Homo sapiens: one gene and its partner. The protein of the gene in region 2 interacts with the protein of the main gene of each other region in a pairwise test. Each region holds a gene or a part of one and is shown on either strand. Other genes may lie near its edges. The genes, in order: GRIP2 and CSPG4.

Region 1 (14,961 bases), on a different chromosome or scaffold from region 2:
ACGCTGCAGCCGGGGTGGGTGGCCTTCTTTTTTATTTTATTTCTCTTGAAATCATGGCTAATTTGCCTTCATTATCTCCCGCTCTCTGGGGCCTCAGGGGGCTATTGAGCTTTGACAAAGGGAAAAGGAAGTCAACTCCTTGCCAGGCTGCCTTCGCCAGGGTCCTGCCTAAGCGGGTGGCTGGAAAGAAGCGTGGGGGAGTGGGTGGGACTATAAAGTCAGCCGGCTTTGACTGCTGCCCTGTTCTGTGAGCCTCCTGGAGGGAGGACTCAGCATCTCAAAAGGGACCACTGAGAAAACAAATGCCCAGAGGCTCCACTTGGGGCGAACAGGACATGATTTGCAGGGACGGTGAGCTGTCGGCCAGGACCATGCCAGCTCACCGGGACCCTGGGTGCTGAAGAGGACATGGGCGCTAAGTACTCCACCAAGTGACGGTCCAGCCCCAGCCAGCTTCGCCCCACCATGGAAGGGATTGTTGATATGGTGGGAAGGGAGGGATAGGCTTTGGAGTCAGTCCAACTTGGGACTTTGATTCTAAATCGGCTGCCAACTGGCTAAGGGATCTGGGACAAGTCACTTCTCTCTGAGCCTCAGACTTCTCCTCTGCAAAATGGGGGTACTGGTGCCCACCTCATGGGTTGCTGGGAGGAACTGTGGGGAAGTGTGCACAGAAACCATAAAACATGGCAGTTCCCTCCCTGCCTGCTTCCCTCACCTTGTTGAAAGGTTTTCCTAGATCAATCATGATGATGGCTCCTAGTGATTAAGTGCTGGTTTCTGTGCTTCCTAAGCACGATCTCATTTAATCCTCACCACTTTTGAGGCGGTATAATCATGATTCTCATTTTACAGATGAGGAAACTGAGGCACAGAGAGGTTAAGTGATATCCCATGATAAAGGGCAGGGCCAGGGTTTGAACCCAGGCCTAATGAGGCACAGAGAGGTCAAGGGAACTGCCCAGGGGCACAGAGCTTCTAAGTGGCAGAGCCAGGATTGAAGCCCAGGCCTTCTGGCTCCCTAAGGGGTCTGGCCCTACCCTCTGGGTACCTTCCTGCCTACTCCCCCATCCATGCAAGCCTGGAAGTTGCTGTAATGCCTGCAGCCCCGGGGCTGTTCGGCTCCAGGCAGAGCCCCAGCTCCTTTGGGCGTTCCTCCCTGGCCACTGAGGGCTGGAACAGGCCAAGGGCTCGATGGAGATGCCTCAAAGCCAGTTACAGGCTGACCTCTGAATGACAGTTCCAATCCCCACGGGCGACAAGCCTCCCAGGAAGCCCAGCTTCCATGGGGAGAGCAGCATAGAAAGATCAGATAAGCTCGGCAGAAGCACGTTTTTCAGGGAGACAAAAAGAAATGCATCAATACATTTAAAAATTTGAAGCCTCATTCATTTGTTGCCAAGGATTGCAAAGAAAAAAATAAAGAACCTTAATAAGTAGCACCCAGTGTTGGGCCCTTCCCTGGGCCAGGCCTGCTCTAAGCACTTTATGAATGCTAAGTCAGTTAATTGTCCTAAGAACCATGGAGGGAGGCTCACCGATTGTCCCCAGTTTACAGATAGGGAGCCTGAGGCCCAGAGAAGCCACTGAGCTGGTGAGCTGCAGAGGCACCTGGAACCCAGGGCTCCCTGACCTCACAACAGACCATGCCCTGAACCCTTGGCTCTGCTCTTTCCCTCCAAACAGGAGGGCAACAGACCCCAAATGAGAAGCATCAGGGCACTGGGAAGGTGACAGCTCCAGTATCCCAAGAATACCTAAGTTAGGGCTCAGGCACTCACAGGCTGGGTGCATCAGGGCTAGCAGGACCCATGGCATCACCTGGAGAGGCCGCCACCCCCACAATCCTCCTCCACACAGGGAGAGGGGCTCCTGTCCAGCAGGCCTGAGCCACACGCAGGCCAACATCCCACCATGGGAGAGCGGGGGCGCAGTCTCAAGTTGGGGGTTGGCCTTCTGCGTTCTGGGTCCTGCTCTCCTGCCCTACTCTAAAACCAGCAATGTCAAGGAACGTGACCTCAAAATCAGGGTCACCCACAGAACCATTCAGTTTCCCAATGGCGGCTGCCTGCAGTCACAAGAAGACTGTGTCTAGCTCAGGGAGAGTAGAAGCAGAAGTCCTCACCACAACTGTCAGTCCCCGGTCCCCTGACTTCACCTCCTGATGCTCGCCCTGGCCAGCTCCACTCCAGCACACTGCATTTTCTCACTTAATCCTCATAACCACACTGCCACTTGGGCACTGTTATTCTCCCCATTTTACAGCTGGGAAAACTGAGGCATGGAGATGCTAAGTGACTTGTTCCTGGTTACACAGCCAGAAGTGACAAAGCGGAGATTTGACCCTATGGGCCCACCCCACCTTGGCAACTGCACTCTAAAGGGAGGTGAAGCCTTCCTGGACACATCTGTCCTTTCGACCCAAGGCCCACCAGACTCACATCCCCCTAGGGCCTTTGCATCGGCTGTTCCCTCTGCCCACAAAACTCTTCCCCAGACATCATCAAAACTCCCGTCTCAGCTCCTTCGGGAACTTGTAGAAATGTCACCTCCTCAGGGAGGCCTTCCCCATCCGCCTGTTGGAACTTACACACGCACCCTGTACCTCCACACCTCCTCTCCACTCCCTCCCTGCTTCATGTTCCTCTGGGCAATCAACACCATCTAAATATTTACGACTATTTTTACTGGGATGTCAGCTCCAGGGGGCCGGGCTTCTGTCTGCCTGCTCACTGCTGTGTGCAGCGCACACATTGTCTGGCATGTAGTACATGCTCAGCAAATATTTTTTTAATTCAATTCCCATTTACAGATTAGGAGAATGAGAATCAAAGAGGTGGAATGAGTTTCTCAAGGTCAGAGACTAGGAAGAGACAGAGCCAGGACGCAAACTCAGGCGAAGGATCCCCCATGGCCACAGCCCCTGCTGTGGAGTAGGAGGCCAGGCCTGCCTGAGGAGTCTCAGAGCCAAGGGGTAGGCCTGGTGAGGGCCCCTCGGAGGAGTGGGTAGCCCAGGGCACAGCAGGGGGACCTTCACACATGTACACCCACACCCACTGAGACTTCCCTGCCCCCAGCATGGCAGCAAGTGCCTGCTCAGACCTAGCAGGCCTGGAACAAAGATGTCTTTGTGGCTGCGGAGTCAGAGCAGGCCTCCCGTCCTCAAGGCAGGAGAGTGAACATGGAGAGGGACTTCCTGCCAAAATCTGTGTTCAGGCCTACTGTGTGCCCCAGCCTGGGCCAATGGAGATAGGTCACAGTCCCTTCCTGCCAGAACTCTGGGGTTAGTGACAGGAAAGCAAGACTCCCTGGAGTGAGACGACATGCCCAGGGTGTGGGGCCTGAGAAGGGACCCACCCAGAGTCCATCAGGAGCAGAGAAAGGGCATAGGGCTGCCTGGTCCACAGAGCCCAGCTCCAATCGGGGCACTCACTGACGCACACTGCCAGTGGGCTGACTTCTCAGGGCTGCAGTCTTCTGTGCCAAATGTGGAGGTATATGGCTGTCCTTACCAGCAACAGGGGAGGTCACATGACCAGGCCTGGCCAATCAGAGGCTCAGCGATCCATCAGGGGTGGGCATGTGATACAAGTTGGACCAATGAGAGCCGTTTCTGGGGCATTTGCTGGAACTACTGGAAATAGGCTCTCTTTCCTTAGGGATGACTGAGCTGGTTGACCTTAAGTTTGAAGGTGCCAGGAACTCTCAAGGAGAGGAGAGAGTCTGCCTGGAAATGAAGCTCACTAAAGTGAAGCAGAGCAAGCTACGAAGAGACCCAGAGTCCTAATGATGTTAATTGAGCATCTGGATCCCACTGTGCCTGAAGCTCCATCTTTACACTTTTTGGAAGAAGAGCCTTGGTGCTGATGCAAACTGAAGCAAGTGTGATCATGAGGTTCTGTGACCTGGGGAGGAGACCTAGGGTGGAGGCTACAGTGGTGAGGGTAGAGGTCAAGTAAGTCATCAGAGAGAGAAAATGTCAGAGAGGTCAGGAAGGGCCTTGAATGCAAGGCTTAGGAGCTGAGCAGATTTGTGTTTTGGCAAGCTTCCTCCCATGGCAGCAAAGGGGTGGAGGCCAGGCCAGGGAGGAGACTGGGCAAAGGCCCAGGCAGTTGATGCTGACCCTGGGCCGAGGTGGAGGTCACAGGCCCATGAGGAGGGGGAGACACCTCCCTGGCAGTGCCCCAGGTAAGGTCTCCAGGGCACTGCTGCCTTTGTGGCCCTGACCACAGCAGACCAAGGTGACCCCACTCACCTGGGCCTTGGGTTGAAAGAACAGATGTGTCCAGGCCAAGAAGGCAGAGCCTCCATTTACAGTGCAGTTGCCAAGGATGGGTGGGCCCATCGGGTCAAATCCCAGCTTTGTCACTTCTGGCTATATAACCCTGAACAAGTCACTTAGCAGCTCTCTGCCTCAGTTTCCCCAACTGCAAAATGGAGAGAATAACAGTACCCAAGTGGCAGTGTAGTTATGAGGATTAAATGAGAAAATGCACAGAAAGCTTAGAAAAGAGCCTGGCCCAGAGGAAGCTCTCGACAACAGCCAGCTATTATGATTATGAGTGTTATTTTTCCTGGGTCGCTAAGGCTGGGTCCAGAGGTGACCTGGCTCTGCTCCTTGCCATGGGAAGGGAGGTGGGAATCAAAGTCCACTGGGCCCTCAGAAGCAGGGCTGGGGGCTCTGCAGTAAAAGTCATCGGGGTGTCAATCCCAGCTCGGCCACTGCCCTCCCTGAGCCTTGGTTTCCTCCTCTGTCCACTGGGACCACAGTCCTTGCCCTTGGAGCTGTGGTGCAAAGATATGTCAAGAGCGTGGGAAGAAACCAGTGAGGCAACCCCAGGGCAGTGAATGCAGTATGTTCTGGTCCAGGCCCCAAGCTCCCTCTTTGGAGGAATAGGGTGAGCCCAGGCTGAGGCTGGAGAGACAGATGGAACAATCGTGTCTGCCCCTCCCCTGGGTCCCAGCCTCAGCACACCCAGGAATGTGGCAGCTGTGATCCCCCATCCCACACATTCCCAGAGCCCCAGGGGCTCACCAGTCAGACCCCCAAACCAGAGTTTCTCCTCCTGCCGAGAACCAGTCTCCTGCCCAGCTGTGCCAGCACAGGAACTCCTCACCACCACCTTGCCCATGGGCCTTGGGCTCTCACCCCTCTGGGTCGGACACTCACTCCCACCAGGCAGCTGTGCAGATCCTGAGATTGGGCAAAAGGCTTCGCTCACACCCAGATAGGACCAGCCTTCCCCCTACAAGGCTGAGCACTGCCCTCGGAACCTCCAGACCCGCCTGTTCTGCCTGCCTGTGCTGGACAGCCCTGGGGGAGGCTCAGCCATCCTGCTACAGGACAGTGGCCAGGGTCAGACAGACAGCCCCAGCAAGTGTCCTGCCCCACCCTCCCCAAGCCCTGGGTCTCCAGGGAGTGGCAGTCCCAGGTCTCAGCCATCCAGTCCCCTCTCTCTGGGCAGCAGCTCCAGAGGGATCTATGTGTTCAGCCCCATCACTCTGCCCACAGACCCCCCATTACGTACCCGCCTCTCCAGGGGTCTCCCGGCTGAGCCCACACAGCATGTTCGCTATTGTCTCCCCTGCTGCCCACCAACTCCCTCGGGAGCCACGCTGCTTGGCCCTCCCTCCCCTCCCCAGGGAGGGGCTGTGGGAGGGAAGCTCACAGCTCCCACTGGCTGGGCACCGAGTCCACCCACTGCAGCGGGCGGCTCTCTGCTTAAAGGGGACATGGCTATTGTCAAGGCTGGCTCCAGGACAGGGTCCAACATGCCCCACCCCTGCAGCCTGGGTCTGGACAGGGGGTCTTTGAAGGTGGCATGCCTGGGGCTTCCCCCAGGGCTCTCAGGCAGAGAGAGAGCCTGCTTCTAACTTGCCCTGGGACTTTGGCAAACGACTCTTCCCTCACTAGGCATCAGTTTTTTCATCTGGAGACAGGGAACAGTGCTTTCCAAACTTTTTTTTTTTCTAAACGGCAGATTCCAAGAGAATTTGCACAGAACCCCAGGACATAAGCTAGATGAAGCACAGACTCTTTGACTGCATGAACAATGCCAGGGCGTCTCTGTAGGTCTCAGCTTAGAAACCCTTGAGCTTGGAGACCCTCCAGGGCCCTCCCACCAATGTTCCAACTACCTCTCCTAGGTATCAGTTTTCCCTCGGTAAAATGGGACTTAGGAAAGATGAACCCGGCAGCCTGCCACGTGGAGTGGCCACCCAGCTTTTTGTGAAGACCAAGTGAGCTGGGTGGAGGATCTGCCCGCCTCTGGGCTTGATAGGCAGGGCCAGTTGGTCACAGGCTCCAGCCACACCTGGCAGGCTCTGCCCCGTCCCAGACCCAGCTGGGCCTTAGCCTTGCACACTCCTGGGATTCCTCCACATTGGCTCAGGACTGACCAGGCTGATCTTAATGGACACCTGAGGCTCCTCCTCTACCTGTCTGTGAGAAGGGGTGGCAGGCTGCACCCAATTTCCCCTGCCCTCCATCCCACCAGTGTGTGCTGGCACCAACTGAGGGTCAGACACCAAGAAGGGTGGGGTGATGGTGACAGGGCACTGAATGGTGGATGTCAACAACCTGTACAACTGCACAGTGCGTCTGGCAACAGAGAACCAGACAGACAAGGCCTGGCTCCCATGGAGTTCCTGACCGCGTGGGAACACACGAGCCTCATATTTCTTCCATGTGCCCTGCAGCTAGTGGGAGAGGGCTGCCCGGTAGTTAGGGACCCGAGGTTTCTTGTGGGTTCCCTCCAGAACAGTGACCCCAGCATGGAATTTAGCCACAATTCCTGGGCCGCCCCACACTGGCTCCTGCCAGCCCAACGCTAGTGGCACCTTTAGAATAATCCAGGTTCTAAATCTGGGGCAGGGCTACTTGTGCTTTTGTATCTGCAAACTCAAGACCCTGCCCTGCCGCCCACTTCCTATGGTGCCTTCCTCTTTGGGCAACTTGAGATCTGTTTCTGGGGGAAGGGTCCAGGTGCCAGGCAAGTTTCCCTTGACCAGCAGTGATGCCAAGGTCTCAGCCACAGGGTGGGTGGTGAGGGTCAGATTGCAGAGGGAAGACCTGAATTTAGTGGACATTTCCTGGACGACTCAAATCATGCAGGGACGGGGGTACACGCACTCAATTTGGCCACCGGTACCCTGGCAGTGGTCAGGGAGAGGCTCGCCATGAAGACCCTGGCCTTCACCAGGGCACAGAGGCCACTCTGGAGCAGTCTTAGCTTCAACCACGCGGGAAGGAATGCATGTGAACTGCTCTAACAGATCCTCACCCCACTCGCCTCCATTCCCTCCATCTACAGCCTCTTCAGTCAGGGAGGACAGGCGCATGGCACCCAGGCAGTTGGAGTTAGATCTGCCCCTTCTTTCTCCCTCTTTCTCTTTCTCTCTTTTTATTTTTTATTTTTTTTATTTTTTTTTGTGACACAGCGTCTCACTCTGTCACCTGGGCTGGAGTGCAGTGGCGCAGTCTCCACTCACTGCAACACACTGGCTGGGCTCAGATGATCCTCCCACCTCAGCCTCCCTGGTATCTGGGACTACAGGCAGGTGCCACCATGCCTGGCTAAGTTTTACATTTTTTGTAGTGATGAGGTTTTCACCATGTTGCCCAGGCTGGTCTCAAACTCCTGTATCTGCTCCTTCTCAAAACAAAATTTGCTCTCCATACAGGTGCATTTAAATGAGTGATGAAGATTGGCAATTGGAAGCCTTGCCTCATTTCTCTGCTCCTTCTCTTAAAAAAAATTTGCTCTCCATACAGATGCATTTAAATGAGTGATTAAGATTGGCAATTGGAAGCCTTGCCACATTTCTGTCTCTCTCACTGCTCCTTTGGAGTTTACTTTTGTGGACCCCCAAGCTCCTGGAAAGGTCATGCCGTGGATTATGGGAGAGCTTCTGTGGCGTTTCTCTGAGTGCTTGCCATGCTATGCAATGTAGGCAGATGGGAAACAGCATCTCCCCTTTGCCCTCTGTCCTCGACACCCTACTGAGCACATTTTCATTTGATTTTATCCAAGTGCATGTTCAGAAGCAATTATTGGCCCATTTTGGAACAAGACAGAATTTAAATAAATAACTTGGCACAGAGAGGTTAAGCAACTTGCCCAAGGTCACACAGCTGGTAAGGATGGAGCCAAGTTTCACACTCAGGAGGCCTGGCACCAGCACCGCTATTCTTAATGGCACTGCTATGGGCCTCAGGATTTCAGGGATTTGTAAAGCTTCTGGGTGTGCAGAGGAAGAGGAATTAGCTCTGTCTGGGAGTCCACTGAGAAGGGTTTTTTAGACTGACTTTGAAGGATGGGAAGGAGTTTGTCCACGAAGGAAAAAGCCATTGCACGCGTGTGAGTCCATGGCCGAAATCCCACATGACTAAGTGAGGAGACAAAGAAGGAAACAGAGATACAGCCAGGCCTGGGGTGGTCTACTAGGGTCTCGCTCCTCCAAGTGCAGTCTGAGGACCAGCAGCATCTGCATCACCCGGAGCTTGTCAGACACGCAGATGCTCGGGCCCCGCCCAGGCCCGCCAAATCAAAAGCTGCATGTTAAGAGGGTCCTCAGGTGATGCATATGAAGTTTGAGGAGCGCTGTATTAAAGAGTTTGTCTTTCATCCTGCAGGAAATGGAGAGCTAAGGATAGCTGTAGTGCAGCGGGGTGAGACAGCTTTGCAAGCACCTCAAACACAGAGTGCAGGCTGACAGTAGGTGAGAGAAGGATTTCCGTCTGGGAGGCGGCCTAGGAATGAGCAGCAAGGGCTCCTTCTAGGACATGAGAAGAGGCAAAGCTGCTGCTTGATCACCCTCCAAAGACGATCCTTCTTGTCCAATGCTGCCAACTTCAGGGAAGCAGAAGAAAAGGGGAACAGATTGCCTGGGCATGCAAGGTGGCTGGAAGCCAGGCCTGCCAAGCACCCAGGCCACCAGGGGCTCCTGAGGACAGCATCTGACTGCCCCATGTTTCAAATGCTGTGGGTGACATGCGAGGGGGCTGAGCAGCCCAGGGGAGATGGCAGGGCCACTGAGCTGGCAGGCAGCCCCTCTTTGGTCAGGAGGGGCCCTGACACTTCCATGTCCCCAGGTTTGTGAGACAACTGGAAGACGGATTCCTGTGTGATCGGGGCACTTGTCCAAATCTCTCTGGACCTCAGCTTCCTCGGCTGTAGAATGAGAATAATAAAAACACCTACCCTCTAGGGTTGGGAAGACCACGTATTAATGAAACAGAAAGCATTCATCCACCCACTTGCCCGCCAAAAGTCTCAAACTAACGCCGTCAAATAGGCCAGAAACAGAATTTCAAGGGAGCTAAGCACACAGGTCAGACATGCCCAGGTTCGAATCCCAGCTCCACCACCCACAAGCTGTGTGACCCTAGGCAAGTCACATCTGTCTGAGATTCACTTTGCCCCTTGTGAGGAGTGAGGATCAGAGACCTTGGAAGCGTTTTGCAAACTCACGGTCACCACATGCTCTTCCCAACGCAGGGCCAGGCCTGCAGGTCCCTCACATTGTCTCTCAGTGGGGCACCACTGGCACTAGAGTTGGGGCATTCTGCTTGTGCGGGGCTGCTCTCACACTGCAGGGTTCCTAGCACCCCTAGCCCCTCCCACCCAGAGGCTAGTGGCCACTGTAGTTGAGAACCAAGCCCATGCTGCGCAGATGGGAAAACTGAGACCCACAGAGGGCCTTGTCGGGGGTGCCCCACCAGCACAGCGAGGGCCTGGACCCAGGCCTCCGTCCTTCATCTCTGACTCCAGGGCTGAGTCCGTCATAACACAGGCGAGCCTTGTCCTGAGCCCACCAGGGGCCCTGAGTGACAGCCGGAAATGAAGTCTGGGTGAGAGGGAGGCAGCAATGGCAATTCAAGGACAAGAGAGATAAACCTTTATTGCTCTGGGCTGTCCGTTGCTTCTTCCTCCGACCCTCCTCCCTCCACCCCAGGGGCCGGGCCAGGACAATTGCTCCCTCCCTGCCTGGTCCTCTCAGAACCTGCATCTTGTTGTTAAACATTTCAGCCAGGTAGGCATTATCGTACCCATTTTATAGATGGGGAAACTGAGGCTCAGTCTGGGATTCCACCAGCCACAGGGGAGGGGCACTAGGGGACCCCCTCTTAGGGGGCGCTGTTTGGTCTTGTCCTCACTCTGTCCAAGGTATTCCACATCTTCCCCAGCCCTCATGGCCCCTCACTTGACTTCAGGGAAGGCTGGGAGGAGCTTCAGGAGTAGTGCCACCCAGTGGGCTGCCCCAAGCTGTGAGCCTCAGACCCACAGAGCCTGCCAGCCTACAGGAAAACACGCAAGGCCACAGGCCAAGGAGGCTCCGACAGCCGCAAGAGCAAAGCATGGCAGCCGTGTGGACAGGCCCAGGAGAGGGGGTGTCCAGAATGTTGGGAAGAGCCACCGTTAACATAATCGGAGCAGAGACTCCACGCACCAGGCCTTGTGACCAGCATTTTGCACACATTTTCTCATTTCATCCCAGGAACATCTCCACTTCAGAGATGAGGAAGCCAGGGCCCAGAAAGGTAAAGCCACTTGCCCTTAGGCAGAATGTCAGGGGGAGCCAGGGTTTGAACCCAGGCCTGCCTGACAGCATCCCCACCCAGTGGCCCCGAGAAATGCACACACCGAACCACTCTCCACAGCCCAGGCATGTGAACACAGAGTCAGGAGGGCCAACGCAGCCAGCCAGCGACAAACACATGTTGAGAGGGGCTGGGAACCCCTGACTGGGCAGGGTCAAGTCACCAGCAGGCCAGGGGCCTGGCCACGGATGGGGCAGCTCCCAGGGGCTCCCTCTTGGGCTCCATGCTTCCCTTGACACCCACAATAGCTTCCCTCCTGGAGGACAGGACATGGGAGCACAGCTGTACAGTGGGCCTCTCTGAGCCTCAGGTTCCTCCTCTAAAATGTGGATGATGAAGTTGTCTGTACTAACAAGGTCTTTGTTGAGAAGCTCAGTGAATGAGCGAAACACCTAAAAAACTATAGCATGTGGGCACAGGGAGATGGCCAGCCTGATCATGGCCCTGCCCTGTCTCTCTGGTTACTTGTTCACTCAGAGAATATTTACTAAGCACCTACTACCTTCCAGAGGTCAGCTGGGCCAGACGTTTCAGCAGTGAACAGAGCAGGCAGACCCTCCTTTCTTAGAGCTTCTGGTCTAGGGAGGACCAGAGATCCAGCAAGAAAGACAGACAGACGGACAGACAGAAGGCATTTGAGATGGTCCCGAGGGCTGTGACAGACACAGTCACGATGTTGGCACAGAGAATACAAGGCAGGTGGTCAGGGAGAGGCTCTCAGAGTAGGCGACCTTTAAGCTGAGCCCCAGGTCTCCTTCACCAGCATCTTCACACCCCGTAGGGACCTGTGGGTGGGGTAGAGGGAGGGGACTGCTCTGCAGTAACTGCCTGGAGCTGGATGAGAAGGCACAAAGGGAGGAGGAGGTTCCAGGTAGGCCGACCAAGCTTGGGTACCAGGAGCAGCTGAGGGGCAGGTGCAGCTAACGCACAGAGACAAGGTCGGCCGAGGCCAGGGAGAGGAGTTGGGATTCTGTTGAGTGTGAGGGGAGGGTTTTTAGCAGGGTCGTGCTGTGACCTAACTTCTATTTTGCAATGGCAACTACCGGGAGTGGGCTGCAAGGGTCAGGATGGCACGGGGGTGAGGGGTCTGAGGGAGGAAATGGGCCAGGCACTTGAGAGGCGGGAGATCTGGAATCCAGGTCCCTTCTGCTCTGAGCCTCATTTTCCCCTTCAGTTGAGCATCAAAGCTCCTCTAATGACAGCCAATAGGGCACGTTTGAGGAATTGCCAGTGGGAGAGGTCAGAAAGCATGGAGTCAGGATGTATCTTGATGCAAAACAGGAAGAAAAAGAAAAATGGGCACCAGCTATAAACAGGCGAGGCACAGGGCGTGGAGGGCAAATGACCCCAAGTTCATGCAGAGGTGTCCCAACTAACTGTCACCAGAGAAGTGAAAACAGAAACAGCGAGCTCCCACTTGACTCTCCTCAAAATGGCAAATGCTGGAAATGCAGACAAAACCAAGAGCCGGTGAAGATGTGGGGAGATGGAGATGGAAAGTCACAGCACAGCTGGTGGGGGGTAAACTGAGGCAGCCACAGTGGCAGCACCTGGTGGTGTTAGGAGAAATTCCATGTCTGGCCACCTGTGTCCCAGTACCCTCACTCCTGGAAGTTATTGCAGAGTAATTCCACCCCCTACCCAGGTCCCTAAGGGGCATGAACTCTTGAGAATGTTGGTAAAGGTGACCTGGGACTCCATCCTAGGGTAGGGGACAGGTAACGTGGTGACTGCACACCGTGTTGTGTGACACAGCAGTTAGAAGTGCAGCCACATGAACAGATCTTAGAAAACCTAGTGTCACATTAAAGAAAGAAAGGAGGGGAGAAAGGGAGGGAGGAAAGATGGAAAGGAAGGAAAGAAGAGAGACAGAATGAGATCTACCCCGTGGTATCATTTATGTATTGAAATGTGGTGTCATTATGTATCGAAAGCAGACACATAAAGCACTATCTATGCTGCAAGGGCACACACAGACGGAAAGACCTGTTTCACCTATTTCAAGTGCAAGTTTAGAGGGAAGGAATTTGGGGTGGGGATAGGGCATGAAGGAGAAGAAATAAGATTATACAGAGCCAGATCTGGCGCTGGGATGGCCCAGAACCATGTGTGCTTTGAACTGAGAAATTTAGCTCAAGCTTTGGAACTTGGAGTTCAAAAATTAAAAATAAATAGGTGCCTCAAATGGCATGTTAGAAGTTGGAACTCTCTCCTGAGGATGCTGCTGGAAGAGTTTGGAGGGAGAGAGGGATAGGGTCAGCTAAGTGTCTTAGAAAACTGACTTGAATGGGTGCTCAGAGCGCTCCTGGGTGAGGGGTCAGGCCTTGCTGTCTGTCCACCCTCCCCATCCTCCTCCCCTCAGGGGCTGCTCTGACTGTCCACCAGCCCTCTCTCTGCCTTCCTAACAAAAAGCAAAACATGGAAATAAATGGACAAAGCTATTGGGGCTCAGCTCCAGGAAAAAGCAGCATTAAGCATCCAATCTCAGGATGCAGTGGCCCCTCCCTGCCCTGTCCTAGAGAATGTTGTCAAGAAACCCAAGTTCAAAGTCCAGTCACTGCTCACACAGGGCCTACTGGGGGCCAAGAACATTACACATGTTGAAATGTCAGTATCTCTTATAAAAGGGACTACATCCAAAGAGGATCTGCCACAAAACCACCCAGAACAAAGGTGGCCACAGAGTCAGGGATGGTCAGAGGAGGAGTCCAGGAAAGCTGCCGGGTGGAGGCAGTGTCTGAGCCACGCCTTGAGGGACAAAGAAACTCAACACTCAAAGGTGAGGTAGGCAGGGATTTCCAGGGAGAGGGCACAGCCTGGGCAGAGGGTGGGAAGTGGGAAGGAAAGGCACCACCAAAAGGGGCCCTAAAGAGCAGGTGGGCTGGCTAGGCACGCAGGGCCGGGTTCCGCAGACACAGTTCTGCGGAGAAGAGAGGTCACCGAATCGGGGCATTCCCGGCACTGTGACCGGCCATGTGGATGACATTTAGGAAGGATCAGGCTCTCCGGAGGCCCCTCCGGTGAAGACACAGAGAGCTTGTGCAGCTGTACACAGGCCAAGCCGTCAGAAGCAGTGCACGGACCTCCGCACACTGGAGTTGATGCAGCGACTCCCCCTTGTGGCTGGTAATCAAGGCATGAGGGTAGTGGATCAGGCTTTGGGAGGGGTGGGCACAGCTGTCATCCCGTGCCTGTGACCGGCTTTGGTGCCAGCGTCAGCCTGTGGCTAACACTGTGCCCAGAGTCCCACCACCCACCCATGGATCAAGCATGACCCTCCGTCCAAACGCAAACGCCTTAGAGAGAAGGAAAGGGCCAGCATTTGCTGAGCACCTACTGGGTACACAGCACTTTATGTACACTGTCTCATGGAATCTTTCAAGAATCCTATGGGATAGACATTGCAGTTCCCATGCTACAGTGCGAAACTGAGGTCGAGAGAGGGGAAGGGGCTTTGGTAAGACAGCCCAACTAGGATGGGCAGAGGGCCAGACCATGAGAACCAGGTGCTCCCTCCTTGAGCCCTTTGCACAGACTCTTCCCTTTGCCTGGAATGTTCTTCCTCACTTTCATCCTTACAGTCCAGTCTAATACCCTCCACCCAGAGGCCCACCCTGGCCATGTGGGGTGTGTCTCCTTTACCTCCCTCAGCCTTTCCTCCAATGCCTTTCCTCTCAGCCCTTCCTCCACCTGTTCTTTTCCACTAAATGGGAGATCCACAACTGTCTTGCTCACTGATTTCAACCCCATGCCCAGGGCAGCGTTGTGCACACAGTAAGTGCTACACAAGTGTTTGCAGAATGAATGAATGAGAAATATATGATGAATGTACATAATCTCTGAATTGCCATATTGGAAAGAAATCAACAATTCATCCCTTCTAACACTGTAGTTCAATGCAGGAATCCTCTCTGCTGTCTAGTACAGCTTGTACACCTCCATAAATGGGAGCTCACCACCTCTGAGCAGCCCACCCTATTCCTGAACAGTTGTAAGGGGTGACAGTCAGTCTGTTATCCCAGCTGCAGCCTGCCTCCCTATGGCTCCCCCTAGTCCCACACCATGGCCTCTGAGCCCTGGCAGGAGAGGCCACAGCTCAGTCTGGATGCGGCTTCAGTGGAGACCCAGTGTGTGGCTGAACACGGTGGTGGCCATTCACCCCGTTATTCTGGGGCCACTTCCTGGAGGGTTCCCCAACCAGGAAGAACAAACCATCTTCCCAGATGCCACAACATCTGACCATGCTGGACAGACATCCTCTACGCCCAAGTGGGGAAACTGAGGCTCAGAGAAAATGGGAACATAAGCCTCTAATAATGACAATCCCGGCTGGCCCCCAGCTGGCACTCTACAGATTT
Region 2 (14,972 bases):
TCATCTCAGGAGACACTGCTTTATCCCAGTGGGGTGCTGGAGTGCTAGGCACCTGCTCAGGTGACTGCCTCCACGTCTAAATGCTGCAGAGACCTCTGTCGGGGTCAGGGCAGCACCAAAAACTCTTGAGCCAAGAGACACACACTCAGGTCAGCTGACCTTCTGTTTAGTTGCCTTTCTGGTCCCTTGCAAGGCCAAGGGGGCCAGGGAGGAAAACAGTTTCCTCAGCTATTGGCTGGGCCCTGACCCTGGTCACTGGCCTCAGCTACCATCCTCTAACCAAGCGCTTTGAGTCACCCACGTAGAGGGGCATGTGCTGGGGAACATTTCCAGTTGAGGGAACCCGTCTGGAAGATGAGTGGAAGCAGGGGCAGGTGGGGTGGGAGAAGCTGAGCTTGGTCCACAGAGGCTGATAGGGGCTGCACCCTGGGCTCCCAGCCACATGTCCCAACCCTGGGGCCTTGTGGAGCACAGAGGAAGCAGGAGGGGAAATGAGAGGTTTTGAGGGAAGAAGCAGCCCAGAGTCCACCCAGGCGGGAGGGCTGGGCCGGGGGAGGAGGAAGCGGGGCCTCAATGGTGTCTTTGTGGAAGTCTTGCTGCTCCCCAGGCCTCAGGCGAGGAGGGTGGGGTGGCTGCGGTGGGGAGCGGTTCCAAGAGGCTTTTCCCTGCCTTATAATCTTCCCTCTTGGACAGGGAGATGGGTGGGTTTCCAGGCTCCATCCGTACCCTCCTTTCCCCCACTTTCCTGGCCCTAGAGGACCTGGGACCCTCACCTCAGTGGACCCAGGCTGGGGTAGGGTTTCTGGCAGGGAAGAGAAGAGTGAAGGACCCTCACTTGGCACTGGGCCTGCACAGCCCCCCAGCCCTAGCAGGGCTCCTGGGAGGCATCTCCCATGTTACAGGTGAGGAAACTGAGGCTCAGAGAGGGCAGTCCTCCGTGCTAGCCTGTGGAGCAGCGGCAGGGCTGGGACTTAAGCTCCTGTGGGTGTGGCTCCAGAGCTAGGGGCTGTGGGTGTCAGCAGGGCACATGCACCGTGTGTGCACCCAGAGAGGCGTGGTGGGTTTGCTTGCTGCCTGTGAATCGGAAGTGGAGCATCTGCCAATGGCCCCAGTGGGAGGAGGGTGTGAGAGCTGGACCCCAGCCTGGGGAACACACACTCTTTCCCTTCCTGTCCCCTGGGACTCTTCTGTCAGGGCCGGGTGGAGGGGGCAGCGAGGAGGGGGGGACAGCGAGGAGGGGAGGGAAGCATCTGCTCTCCTTGGGCGGTTTGGCAGCCCCTCCTCTGTGGCTCTGGGGCTGGCCGAATCGGGAGGGCCCTTCTGCAGGGGCTGGCGGGGGATGACTAGGTCCAGAAGCCAGTGATAAGTGCCAGCCCTGCCCACTGGTGACTTGGAGGTCTGGGAGGAGGGTGGAGAGACAGGGGTCTGGGTGGGAGCTGCCCCCAGGAGGCTGAGGGCCAGGCTCTCTCCTGGGCTGTGTCCAGGACCAGGCAGCCCATGGCTCATCTCTGAGTTCCCCTTGGCTCTGGCAGCAGAAACTGCTGAAGACAGGGCTGCTGGGGCGGCGTCTCGGGGCTTCCCCAGCCTGGCGGGCTGGGTCTGGAGATAGTGAGTGTGTGAGTTGGGATGGGGGAAGAACAGAGGAAATGGTGACTGTGGGTCTGGACGGCTGCCTGGACCTGAAATCTGGTGGCACAACTTGTGCACAGTAGCCTTGTGTGCCTCCTCCTCAGTTCCCCCATCTGAATACAGAGGGTGGGCTCACCCCACAGACAGAAGTCCATGTCCAGGGCAGAAGCCTGGGTCAGGGCTCACACCCCCAGCACACACACAGGGCTCAGAGCCATGTGCTTCCATGCTTTCCCTGGCCTCAGTGTCCCCATCTGTAAAAGGGGACCTGGATAGAGGGACTGACACACATCTGGCCTCTGACCAGCCCAGCAGACTGGCAAGAGGTGTGGCCACTACCGTGGGTACAGTAGAGCCACCTCTGGCCTAAATGGCCACAGGTCTAGCCAGACTGGAAGCTCTTGAGGACAGGACCAGGGCCCACATCTCCTTCCCAGGGCATCTGTGCAGCAAGAAGGCCATGGACCTGTGATGAGGGAGGTGATGTCAGCATCTAAGGGAACGAAAGGATCAAATGAGATGGCATTTGTCCCGTGTGAGGGTTTTTCTATCAGGCAGAGCTGTCCCACCACAGCAAGTCCCAGCACTGGTGGTGCTCCAGTGGGAGGGCGTTGCCGGGGGGTGCACCAGGAAACCTCAGTGTCCTTGCTAGTGAAGCTCTGGGCTACCCAGGCCCATCAGAGATCCCGAGACTGAGACCTCTCTTCCTGGGCAGGCCTGACTCCTCCTGGAATAGGTTCCTGCCTAGCACCCCCACCTGCCAACTGCCTGGAAGCCTGCAGCCTGTGGGCCCCCCCTGGAGCTGTGCCCACCGCCACCACACTCCCTCTGGCCCTCCTTTTCTCTCCCGGCCTCAGGCCCAGCCTCTGCTAATGCACCACGTCTCTCTCACTGGCACCAACTCTCCAGGGCTCCAGGCCCACTGCCAGTGTCCCTCAGATGTCCATGGCAGGAACACCCACAGGAACCCCCAAGCCCAACCCCACCCAAAGCAAGGAGGACTCAGTGTACTCTCCCCTACAGCTGGCTCGCCAGCCCCGTGAAGGCCCGACTGTCCACCTGTTGCTGAGTAGACATCTGAGGGTCGCACTGAACTCTCCTCCTCCTCCCTCCCCACAGCCACTGCTGATTAATACTCAGGTTCCATCCATCCAGTCCCCAAATTCTCCTTCAACTTCATCTTCCTCTCTTGCTCCCTGGTCCATCCATAAGGCGGCTGGCCACCGTCCTCGGTCTGGCTTAATCAATCTCCTGACTCCCTTTGCTAATAGCAGCCCCAGTTAACCCAAACTGAAAGCCACTCCCTCAGCCTCCCTTGCCTTTGGTGGCTCCCATTGCCCCAGGGTCAGGCCCCCACCCCCGGGTGGCACTGAAGGCCAGGGTGCCCTCAACTCTGCCTGCAGGGTCTCTTGCTCTCTTCCAAGGACACTCCACGCCTCCGTCTCACTAGACTCTGCACTGACTCCGTGCACACCTAGCAGGGCCGACCTGCTGCCTTCGCTCAGGCTGGGCCTGCTGCTGGGCCAGCTCTTCTCTCCTGTCCACCTGTGAAATGTCCTCATGCTCTTTCAGGAAAAAAGCCCAAAGCACCTTCTGTGTCCTTGGGGTGCAAAGACACTCGCTGCGGCCCAGGGGGCTGTGCTGTTGTCACCTCTCTCCATTTACACTGTGAGCCTTGGGGACAAGACTGACCTTGCTTGGGGACAGGACGTGGGAGGAAAGGAGGGAGGGGCCCACCAGGGCATGAGGGCCATGGGCCCAGTGGGAGGGGCTGCCTCTGGGAGCTCGCCCCAGCCCTCCCCACCTTGTCTTACCTCCAGTCTCCTTTCCAGGCCTCCTCTGCCCTCCAGAGCCCCAGGGCTCAGAGGCAGGGGACTGGACACTATGGCCTGGGAGGGCTCGAGGGACTGCCAGAGCCAGAGACTGCTTTTCTGGGCCTGTGGTGACAGAGTCTGGTGCTTGTTTTTAAAGAAAATAGAATCCGAGCCCCTATTTATAGCCGGAGGCCACAGCCACAGACAGAAGACGGATGGGGTTTGAGGCTTACAGGCCCCTGCTCTAGCATGGACTGGGAGGTGGGGCCATTCCCAGGCCCCCCTGCCCGCCTTTGTCAACCCCCAAGGAAGTGCCTGTGGGATCCTGACACTCCCTGGGACAGGATGTAGCCTGCACTTTGGGGCACGGGAGGACCTGGTGAGGGGAGCGGAACATTTCTCAGGATTGGTCCCTGGGGCCCAGAGTCCCTTGTGGGAATGGGAGGAGGTGAGGGTCTGTTATGTCTACTGAGAAGGCAGAGAGGGCCCTGGGGACGGGTGGGGTGCTGGCGGCAGGGAGCACTTCTGACTGCCGTGGAACCCGGTAAAGGAGAAGGGAAGGAGAACAGAGCAGGACTGGAGAGATGGGCAGACAGACAGAGAGACAGGGTAGGAAAGACAGACAGAAAGAGATGGAGGAACCACAGCCAGGGGTGGGAAAGGACAGAGAGATGGAGAGAGCGGGATGGGGGGATGGACTGAGAGATCGGGGGTGCTCTGCAGCCCGGGTGACCCTGCGCAGGGGCAGACAGAAGCCGTGAGGGGAGACTGAAGTGTGGCTTCCGTCCCATAGAGTCTTCATGGTGCTCCAGGCAGCGTGGTCAGAGTCCGGGTGGAGCCGGTGAGGAGGGAGGAAGCAGGCGTCTCTGTGGCCTCGCCCACCCCCAGCCTCCAGGGTCTAGGGGCTGGAGACCCTCCGTTCCCGGCAGTCTCCACGGGGAAGGCCCAGGCCTGTTGGAGGCAACGCAATGCGGTGGGGCAGAGCCCAGATTGACCTTGTCACCAAGATCCCCAAGGGCTGTCTTGGGCACGGCCGGGACCTTGAGGGACAGGTCTGGTCTCTGGCTTGTTATGGAGTGAGTTCCCTAGGCCTGGAGGGCTCACAAGCTAAGGCTATGGCCTGGACTCACACCTGCTGCCAGCCTCTACGCAGACCCCTCCCTTGGCTGCGCTTGTAGGGGCTGTGGGGTAACCGTAGCCTGGGGCATGTGTCATGGAGCCACAAGCAGTGACTCAGACAGTTAAAAAAGGAGCAGCTCTGAGTGGTGACTCAATTGGCTCTGGAGGGGCTGGGTGGGTCTGGCTGGTACAAGATGGGGTGGTCTGGGTTTATTTTTGGCAGGGCGGGGCTGGGGCCAGGGGGTGGAAGATGGGAGCCGGGGGTGGAGAGGAGCCGCTGCTCTCATCCCGGGGGGAGCCCCAGGGCTCCATGCCAACTTAGGAAAGTGGCTTTCCAATGCCAGGGAGTCCTGGCAGGCTGGGCTGCTTCTCAGCCCCATTCCAGGCCTAGCCTGCCTTGCTGCTTGGCCCAGGACAAGCAGCTGGCTCTCTCTAGATAGAGGCAGAGGCCCCTGTCCTGTTCCCAAGAGGCTCAAGCTCAGAATTTAGAGCTGACCTAGGAGACTGAAGATTCCACCCAGAGGCCCAGATAGGGCCAGGGGTCTCCCCAAGGCCACATAGCAGGGCCAGGTAGCCCAAGGGCTGTGGCACCATCAGCCAGCTGGCTCAGGCCTCTACAATATCTCGCTGGCCCCAGGGCTGTCCACGGTTGGAGGGACAGCCCCCGTCTGAGTACCCACCCCTGGAGGGGCTCAGCCAGGCTCCAGATGGGTGGCCAGAAGCACACGGGCCCCAGATGCCCAGAGATGGAACCTTGGCCAGGGGCAGCCACCTGGATTCCATTAAAACATGTGGGTGGGGGGCCTGGCCGGGCCCTGTCCAGGGGTCTGTGGAGAAGAGTCACCTCTACGTGGGTGAAGGCAGTGGGGGCCTGCACAATGGGATCTTGCCCTGAGGGCTCAGGCACAGGCCTGCCCTTGTCCGGGGTCCCTCCAGTGTCCCTGCCCCGAGCTGTGCACCCCACTCTGCAGTCACCTCAGTCACCTCCCCACACCTCCCCCTACTCTGAGCTCACATACACCCATACCACTGAGGGGTCCTAGCAGCCCAGAGCGGAGAGGGCTGTCCCCTCCCTCAGTCCGGATTTCTGCTCCTCGTGATGCAGCCACCACTGCTTATATCATGAGTGGTGGTAACAGCCCCATGGTGACTCTGGCAGGTGAGCTGTCCCACGTCCCTGGGCCCTGGCCTCCAGCCCCCACCTCCAGAGAGGGACTCGCGAGGGGTTGGTAGAGAGCAGGGAAAAGACAGGCTTCTAGGGTCCCCGTCCCATAAAAGGTCTTGGGGCCTGCTCATTCTCTTCTCCTCACTCACCTGCTCTGGGGACAGGGGGTTCCTGCTGTGCCCCGGCCCAGTGAGCCCCATCCTAGGGGCTGTTAGGCTTGGGAGAAACAGGCCCTGGGGAGGGCCAGGCAGGGGCTGTCCCCACTTCTTCTAGCACTGAGAGAGGGGTGTGGGCCTCAGCCCAGTTAGCCACAGAGATGCAGACCCCCACCCCCTCCCACCTTCTGAAGGGTCCTGGGCTGGCAGGCAGCCGCTGGCTGATACCCTCTCCAGAGCCCACCTCTCCTTTTCCATGTCACTTAGTCCCACACAGACTCACGGGGCCACCTCCTCTAGGCCTTTGCCTCGGAATCTTCCTTAAACACTCCTAAGCAGAAGTCCCCATGTTGCCGGGCCACTCCACCCTGGGAAGAAGATGCTAATAGCAGAGTGACTGCAGCTTCAGGAGCAGATGTCCACCGAGCATTGATTCCAGGCAAAGTGTCTTGCTTAATCCTTACAACACGTAAGAGGTTGGAATTATTTATCCCCATTTTAGAGAGGAGAAAACTGAGGCTCAGAAAGACAGAGTCACTTGCCCAAGGTCATGCATAGAGCGTCAGGGCTGGAATTCAACCTGAGCTCTCTAATGCCGTGTTTCACCACCATGTGCCTGGCCTCCTGCTTCCCTGTGTGGGTTCCCACAGCTCAGGACTCAGAGGAGGGAGAGATGGGGCCTGGGTCAGGGCTGAGGGGCAGGGGAGGGGCTCCCTCTCAGCTGCTCGCAGACTCCCAAAAAGGGTGATTTGCTCCTCCTTGACCAGGGTGGGAAGTAAAAGTGTGTGTGTGTATCTGTGTCTGTATGTGTCTGTGTGCATATGTGTGTGTCTGTGCCTGTGTGTATATGTCTGTGTGCGTGTGTGTGTGCGTATGTGTGTCTGTGTGCATGTGTCTGTGTCTGTATGTCTGTGTGTATCTATGTCTGTGTGTGCCTGTGTGCGTATGTCTGTGTCTCTGTGTGTGTGTGGCTAGGCCTCAGGCCTGCCTGGCTGGACTCTAGCTGCAGGAGAGCTGGTCTGGCCCCAGCAACTGTGCACAGGGAAGGGGCAGGGAGAAGCGGGTGTCGTGGGAATCAGTGTCCTGGTCCCACTGGTATTTATAGCTGCCCCTTCCTGAAATGTGGGTGGGGGAAGGGGCTGCTCTTAGGTGGGAACGGAAGTTCGTCTCCTCTCCCCAGCCCCCTCTGTCTCCCCAGAGAGTGGACTGGCCCAGGCCAGAGGGCCTGCCCTGGCGGGGGAACGAGGCACTGTGTCCTGATTTTGGGGGTTTTCCCTGGGGCTGCTGGCTCGGGGCAGGACACTCTCCTTGCCTACTGAGCAATACTGCGTGTGTGTGAGTGTGTATGTGTGAGTGTATGTATGTGTGTGTGAATGTGTATGTGTGTGTGTGAGTGTGTGTGTGCACACACACGCATGTGCACTTACTGGGTGTCAGGCTGAAGAAGGTCATGAACCGGGGACAGAGGCCAGGTGAGGGTAGGGGAAGAAAGGCCTGTAACCCCACAGAGATGGAGGGCAGGGCCCCAGGAGAGGGGCCATCCAGGTCATGGGTCTCAGAGCAATCTGTGGTTAGAACAGGCTCCTGGGGGTGGCGATACTGGAGCTGAGCCTTGGAGGATGGGGGAAAAGGGAAGGCCTGTTGCATGGAGCAGCTTGAGTAGAAGTGGAAAGGTGCCAGCGGTTGTGGATTATTATCTGATGGCCTAGTTCTATCTGATCAGCCAGTCCGTGGGACACAGGATCACCTTGACCAGGGAGGATGATATATTTGGGGAGAGAAGGACATAGCACAGCACAGTTGAGCATCCCTAATCTGAAAATTCAAAATCCAAATGCCCCTAAATCCAAAATTTTTTGAGTGCCAATAGGATACCACCAGTGGAAAATCTCACACATAAGAACTTTTTTTTTTTTTTTTTTTAGATGAACCCTCACTGACTCTGTCACCCAGGCTGGAGTGCAGTGACGCGATCTTAGCTCACTGCAACATCTGCCTCCCAGGTTCAAGCGATTCTCATGCCTCAGTATCCTGAGTAGCTGGGATTACAGGTGTCGCCAGCACGCCCAGCTAATTTTTGTATTTTTAGTAGAGACAGGGTTTCACCATGTTGGCCAGGCTGGTCTCGAACTCCTGAGCTCAGGTGACCTGCCTGCCTCAGCCTCCCAAAGTGCTGGGATTACAGGCGTGAGCCACCGCGCCTGGCCTCCACACATAAGAACTTAACATAAATTTCTCTCAGGCACAAAATTTCTTTAAAAAAATCTATAATGTTACCTTCAGCCTATGTGTATAAGGTGTATATGAAACATAAATCAATTTCATGTTTAGACTTGGGTCCCATCTTCAAAATATCTCACTATATATAACAAATATTCCAAAAGCCAAAAAATTCCAAAATCTGAAACACTTCAGGTCCCCAACATTTCAGATAAGGGACACTCAGCCAGTGTGGAGTGAGGGCCAGCAGGCAGTGGGCAGGAGTGGGAAGCTGGGGCAGGAGAGGCCACACAGCCCCAGGCCTGCTGTGAGGAAGCTGGGACCACCTTCTGCTCCCGGCCTCCAGGCTCCCAGACTTGGGGAAGGACATCTTCCAAGGGCCCTTAGTACCAATCTTCATGGAACCCAATCTATAAACAGGTTTGTGGAGTGGCTCTGCATGAATTGGGGTGGGGCAGGCGTCCCATATTCCCAAGCTCAGCTGCCTCCAGGCCGGCTCAGCTGGAGAGCCCTGGGGTGCGCTGGAGTGCAGTCAGAAAATCCCTGGTTGGCTCAGTGATCTCTACACCCCTCTGGGGGCCAGGCTGTGAGCCCTACAATGGGGGAGACCCCTGAGCAAAGCAGGTGGGATGTGTGCTCCCGGGGAGCTGCTGGTCCTGAGGGTGAAGCTACCCCCCAAACCAGGGCCAAAGAGTAGGGAGCCCTCCCCCTAATCTCCTGAGGACTCACTGTGTGACTCTGAACAAGCAGGCTCCTCTGTCTGAGCCCGGGTTTCCCCAGGATCCATGGGGGGCTGGTCTGGGGTCAGGGGTTTCTGCAGTAAGTTCCGGGAAGGGAGGCAGCGTCACTGACACACCTCAACCTTAGGCCGCAGGAGAGCCACACACTGAAGTGTTGAAGCAGGAGCGATGGCTGGAGGCCTGGCTAACGCATGCATGCCAGGGCTGGCAGAGCCAGCGGCCTCCTCCACAGGCTGGGAGCCGGCCTGGGTGTGGGAAGGAGCTGAGCGAGAGGCAGGAATGCTCAACAGGACAGGCACTGTCCCTGATGGGGCCCACCCCTGCCACCAGGCCACCTTGACAGCAGCCCTACAGCTATCACCCTACATCAGAGACAAAAGTGGCTTCATTGGCAACCCTAGCTTTGGGGGGAGAGGGTTTTTTGAAGGGGATTTGCTTAGGCTGTGAGAAAGTGGGGAGGGTTTGGAAAGGGAGAGAACGCTGGCTGGTGGGGGATGGGGAGACAGAACAAACATCTGGAGTCCTCAGCGAGCTGTCTGTCCCTGCAGACCTCTCTCTTTCCCCTGCTGGGGCCTGAGCCCACTGGTGGGTGGTTGTCCACCTGGCCTGATGTGGGGAAACTCGCTGCTGTTGGGGTGAGTGAGAACACCACGGCCTGTGTGCCCAAAGAGAGACCTGAGGCAGTCCCTGCTTTTCTCTGAGCCTCAGTTTCCTCATCTGTAAAATAGGACTGTTGGACAGGTATGGTGGTTCACACCTGTAATCCCAGCACTTTGGGAGTCCCAGGTGGGAGGCTTGCTTGAGCCCAGGAGTTCGAGACCAGCCTGGGCAACATAGTGAGACCTCGTCTCTACAAAAAATAATTACCCTGGTGTGGTGGCACATGCTTGAAGTCCCAGCTACTCAGGAGGCTGAGGTGGGGAGATCGCTTGAGCCTGGGAGGTTGAGGCTGCAGTGACTGTTTCCTGACCTGCAGGGCTGCTGTGGGGCTGCAGGACTAACAACATGGTTAGTGCACACTATGGGGTGTCCCTGAAGGTAAGAGCACAGCAATAAGACAGCTCTGTCCTCTCCTGTTTGGAGTTACGGACCCTCCTGAGAAGCGGAGAGAGCTAGGAACCCTTGCCCCACGGAGGAGCCAAGTACAAAATTGTTCATACAAATTCAGTTCATTCAAAAATTCCTCATACAAACTCAGTAGGAATGGTAATACAGTAAATCTGAAACCTGCCCTAAGCCTGCAGCTGGAGGAAGAGCCTTAACTCTGGAAGGCTCTATTGAACTGACATATGCTGGGGCGGAGGGCATGTTGGAGGCAAGAGGAGAGCTGGATGGGGCGGGAGTCAGGGGGAAAGGCAGTGAAGGAGCAGAGGGACCAGGGAGGGACCAGGCCTCAGTCCCATGCCCACAGGCCCCTTGTTCATTTGCCCCTGGCCTTGAATAGAAGACACACCTCAGGTGGCACCCCTGTCCCCATCCTGTGCTCACTTCCTTCCCCGCAAGTGCCACTGGCCCAGATCTTTAAGGTAGGGGACTTGGAGACAGAGGCAGTAGCCACCTCGTCCAGGTCTGTGAGAGTGGCCGTGTGCAAGTGTGTGTGCCCACATCTGTGTGCGCCAGTAAGTGCGGACGTCAAGGCTATTTCCAACTCCCCCTCCCCTGCCCGCCCCTCCTGGGCAGCACGCCCAGTTCCCAGACACAGCCTATACACTTCCTCTGAGAGCTCCACACGCACCCTACTCCCCTCCTGCCGTCATCGACAGCCGCCTGGCCCACCTGGCATGGCCCACCCCAGGCCCCCCAGGCGGGCAGCACTAAAAGGCCCTTCTTGTCCTGCCCGGGCGGGCAGGCGTAGGGAGGGAGGCTCCGTTACACTTGCTCTAGAACAGTTTTTCTCGAGTCCGGGTGGGCTGGGCCAAGGGCTCTGGCCCCTGGGCCCTGCCCTGCTCCGGAGGCCTGGGGTGGCACACAAGGTGCACACAAGGCTCAGTGCCTGTCCCGAGCACCATCGGTCCCCCCAAGCCATCCTCAGAGGCAGCAGGATCTACCCTGCTTCAATTTCTTGTACCTGGTGTCCCTGTGGCCCTGCTCACTAAGATACCCCCATCAGTTCTGAGTCCCCACCCAGGTAACACACAAGCCCTCCCTGCCAGGTACTCCCCAACCTGGGTCCCACTTCAACCCCTCACATTCTGCCTTTCAGTCAGTGATGCCAGGGAAGAGGTGTGGGAGCCACCACCCCTGCCTGCCCTGTGCTCACTGTGACCCCCCGACTAGAATGTCACCTCCTTCCTTCTCTGCCTGTCCTTCCAGTATCAGCTCAAATCCAATCTCCCCCAATGCTTGGCTCTCTGCTGGGGCCTCCCATACAGCTCAGAAGGAGCTGGACACCGCATCTGTCACCCACACTGTCTCAGTGGCCCAAGCCTAGGCCCCGACGCAGGCTGGGAGCACCCTCGAAGCAGGGCTGGGGGCTCTTCCTGGGCTGCTGGGGTTCTTGGTGGAACTCAGAGTACTTTTCTTCCTCTCTGGGGCCTCAGTTTCCCTCTCTATACAAGTGGAAGATTGGCCCAGATGGCCTCTAGGGTGCTGACTGCCAGGCCCCCTGACCTGGATGCCTCAAATGTTGATGAGTAGAGGGAGAGCCTCCCAGCACGCCTCATTCGGATACGGGAGGACGAGGGCCTTTGCAGCCAGGGGCATCCAGGAGGGGTGGGAGGGACGCCTTCCTCAGGCAGGGGCTGCCCCTACTGCAGAAATCAGGGCAGGCAGCTGGACCAGGAGTGGTGACAGAGATGGGTTGCTGGACGGGAGCTCTCACAGCCCCTCCTCATTTCCGAGTCCTCCTAAAGGCAGGGGATGGTGTAACTTTATAAAACCCCACAGCACCATGCTGCTCTCTTGCCCTAAAACCCTTGTGGCATCTCCTTTGCCAACAGGGCATAAGGCCGTGGGCTTCATTTTGCCATTTAAGGCTTCTGTGCCCCAGCCCAGTGGTTCTCCCTGGCCTGTGCTCGAAATACGCCTCCCAGCCAGGCTGCTGGCCTTCCTGTCTCAACACCCCTCTGCTTACGCCCACCTTGGTGCCTCTGAGTCAGCGCCCCTGCCTGGAGGACTGACTCCCTTCCCATCCACCAAGGCTTGGTTTGAGGCCCACCCTGTGTCCTGCCCCAGCTTGCCCCTGCTTTTCTCCCCTCTGTACTTTTCATCCAGATTTTTGCTGTTTGAGATTTAATTTGCCTTTCTGCCTCCTGAATGAGTCTCAGTTCAGCCTCTCAATTTCCCGTGCCCCTGCGAGCCTAGCACCATGCCTGCATGCTGTCAGGGCTAAGAAGGTATTTGAGAATGGCTCTCAGTTGAAGCCCAAGGAGGTGGGGGTACTGGAATCCCTCCTTGGCTGGAGGCTGGGGCCTGAATGAGCTGACCACCCTGGTCACCTTGGATGCTCCCTTCCCATCTCCCTGGCGGCCCAGCCCATCCCTCAGGCCCTGAGATCTTAGGGGATCTGGTCCCTGCAGGAACAGGGAGCCTGGAGATCCAGCCCTGATTCACCCCGCGGGGGTCCTCCCTTGACTCACTTCCCTTCTGGGAACCATGTGATGCCCTCTTTTAGAGCTGGCTTCTCCATCTGAAGGAGAGAAGGGTGTGGCCTGGGCCCTTGTGAAGGAGGCTCAGGCCCTGCCTTTGCTCCATGTTGCTCTTGGGAATGATCTCGAAGGTGTAGCTGAAGCACTGAATCACACGTGGGTAGTGATGATGGATGGGCCCTAAGGCCACAGTTCTTATGGCATAACTAGAGCTGCCTTCGCTGAAGGAAGAATGCTGTCATGTTGGGGTTTCTGGCATCGGGACAGAGAGGGGATATATCCCAGCACTTCTCGGAAAGCGAACTTCCATTCAGCCTCTGCTGGGTCAGGCATCAGTGCTGGGATGAGGAGGTGTGGCAGGGGGTGGTCCAGAGCTATCTGTAGGACAAGCCCCGCTGAGGGGCACCAGCTCTCCCTCTAGGAGGCTGAGAGTGGGTAGTGGGTGGGGGGTCCTGCCTGTCACCAACAGGAGGAGGGAGAGGAGAGAATGAAGAGGGGAGGTGGCAGATAGACGGATCTGCAAGGAAGCAAGGGGAGGAAAGAAGGGGCAGAGCTGGGGGGCAGCTGGAGGGGTGTGGGGGTGCTCCTCACAGGGGAGGGCAGGGTGGCTCATTCCTCGTTTCCCACCTTGTAGCACTCCCCATTCCTGGCCCAGGGCATCTGAAGCTGGAGGACCCACTTCTCACTGTCGCCGGGTCCCTTTGGACCCCAACATACTCACCCCAAACTTGCCTGGCAAACAAAGCTCGGCCAGCATTGGGGTGGCCCCACTGGTGTCTCAGACAATCCAAACGGGCAAAGCCACGCCCTAGGCAATCCATGCCTGGGGCGCCTGCTCCCGCCCCTAACTGGACAGCCTTGGCTAGCTAGAAACCCCATAACCTGAGATAGCGGGGTCCCGTGTCCGCCCCAGGATTGAACCCCTGGCGACCCCAGCTAGTGGTGGGAGAAGCGCAGCCTGCTTGACTCCCGATCTGGGGGCCACTTCTGGCTCCTCCTGTCCCTTTTCCCTCCCGGAGGAACCCCTCTAGTTCCGCCAGGCTGGGTCGGGGTCTCAGGCCCCTCACTCACCCGCGGATGCAAGTCTGGCCAACATAGTCAGGGTCAAAGCCAAGGCCAGGCCGGGGGCTGGAAGTGGGGGCCGCGGCCCGGACTGCATCCCGGCGGGCTGGGCGGCAGGACTTGCGAGGAGCCAGCGGAGTCCTGGGAGCTGGGAGCTGAGTGGAGCGAGCGCGGCTCTGCTCCTGGGCGCGGGCCGGCTCCGGGTGTCCGCGCACTTAACTCCGGGGGCGGGGCAGGCGCAGACCCGCGCGCCCGCTCGGGTTTCAGGCTTGGACTCCCCCACCTGCCCCCACCCTCAACCTTCTTAAAGGGCCCGTGCGGGGCTGTTCCTCTCTGGGGCAGGGGTGAGGGGGCCCTTGCAGCTGGGCCAGACCCCAGCCCCACCCTAAAGACTTAGAACAAAGTCATAGAGAGGCCCAGACACCCTGAACTCTGGCCCCAAGAGCCGAGCCCGGGAGACCCCCTCAGGGAGGAGGCATGAACTGTCCCAGCCCCTACTTCCCTCCTTTCTGCCTTTGCGGGAGTTCAGGAGACCCCTCCACAGGCACACTCCAGCCTTAGGAGGAAGGACAGACACCAGCCACCCTCACAGGCGGCTTTTGGGCTGCTTTGCCTCGGAGGTCCCCTAGGAACTTCTCCAGACTCCAGAGGCACCACCCGAGGTCCTGTGGGGCACTGCCCATGGCTGCAACAGTGACCTTCTCTGCCTGGAAGGGCCTCACCTCAGTCTCCCTGTCTGTAAGGGAGAGATGTCTGGATTTCCTCGCAGGGCAGAAGAATTCTCAGTCCCGCCATGACATTTGCCTCAAAATAACCTTGCAAGGTGGGTGAGGAGCATCCCCTCCCCCATTTCATGGAGGACGAAAGTGCAGCTCAAGCTGAAAGTGGCTCTTACAAGACTCCAGGTGGAAAGTAGGTCCCTGGCCGTTTGGTGCCAGAAGCCCAGGCCTCCTGACCCCTGAATCCGGGTGTTTCAACTTCCCGAGGCTGCCTCCTGGAAATCTGGCCCTGGATTTGGCTTCTACCTAACAGCTTCAGGCTGGGGCCCTTCTGCTGGCTCCCTTCCAGGCAGCAACATCAGCCTAGTCCCAAACAGGAGGAGAAAGGGCAATGTTACTTAGCTTCCGGTGCCTAGAGGATCTGCGTGTTCTCTGTCCAGTCCCAATGTTACCGGGCCTTGGTTTACTTCCTCCATTCAGGTCCCTCCATCTATCTGCTCCAGCCCATCTCCAGCCCAACCCCACCTTGCACCCTCTTCCCAGCTCTTCCCTTTGACCAGTAACAGCCCAGCACTTCATACTTTGCAACGAAACTGAGACCTGTTTTGCAGATGAAGAAACTGAGGCTGAGAGAGATTAAGGGACTGGAGCTAGTCTACATAGCTGCTGAGATGTGGGGCCAGGTCTTTGACCCTAAGTGCAGTGCTCAGGTGTGATGGTGCCTGGTCCATGTGGGGGTTATGAGTATTGGTCTTGAAACCA

What was found.
Region 1: the proteins of CSPG4 (region 2) and GRIP2 interact in a two-hybrid assay, tested with the Homo sapiens proteins (one study listed by BioGRID).

The regions. Positions count from the first base shown.
Region 1 is NC_000003.12:14,534,741-14,549,701, forward strand, and holds the start of GRIP2 (glutamate receptor-interacting protein 2), read right to left. Parts: upstream 5,603-14,961; 5' UTR 5,569-5,602; coding exon 5,529-5,568; intron 1-5,528.
Region 2 is NC_000015.10:75,699,168-75,714,139, forward strand, and holds the start of CSPG4 (chondroitin sulfate proteoglycan 4 precursor), read right to left. Parts: upstream 13,682-14,972; 5' UTR 13,589-13,681; coding exon 13,501-13,588; intron 1-13,500. UniProt on the Homo sapiens protein: Proteoglycan playing a role in cell proliferation and migration which stimulates endothelial cells motility during microvascular morphogenesis. May also inhibit neurite outgrowth and growth cone collapse during axon regeneration.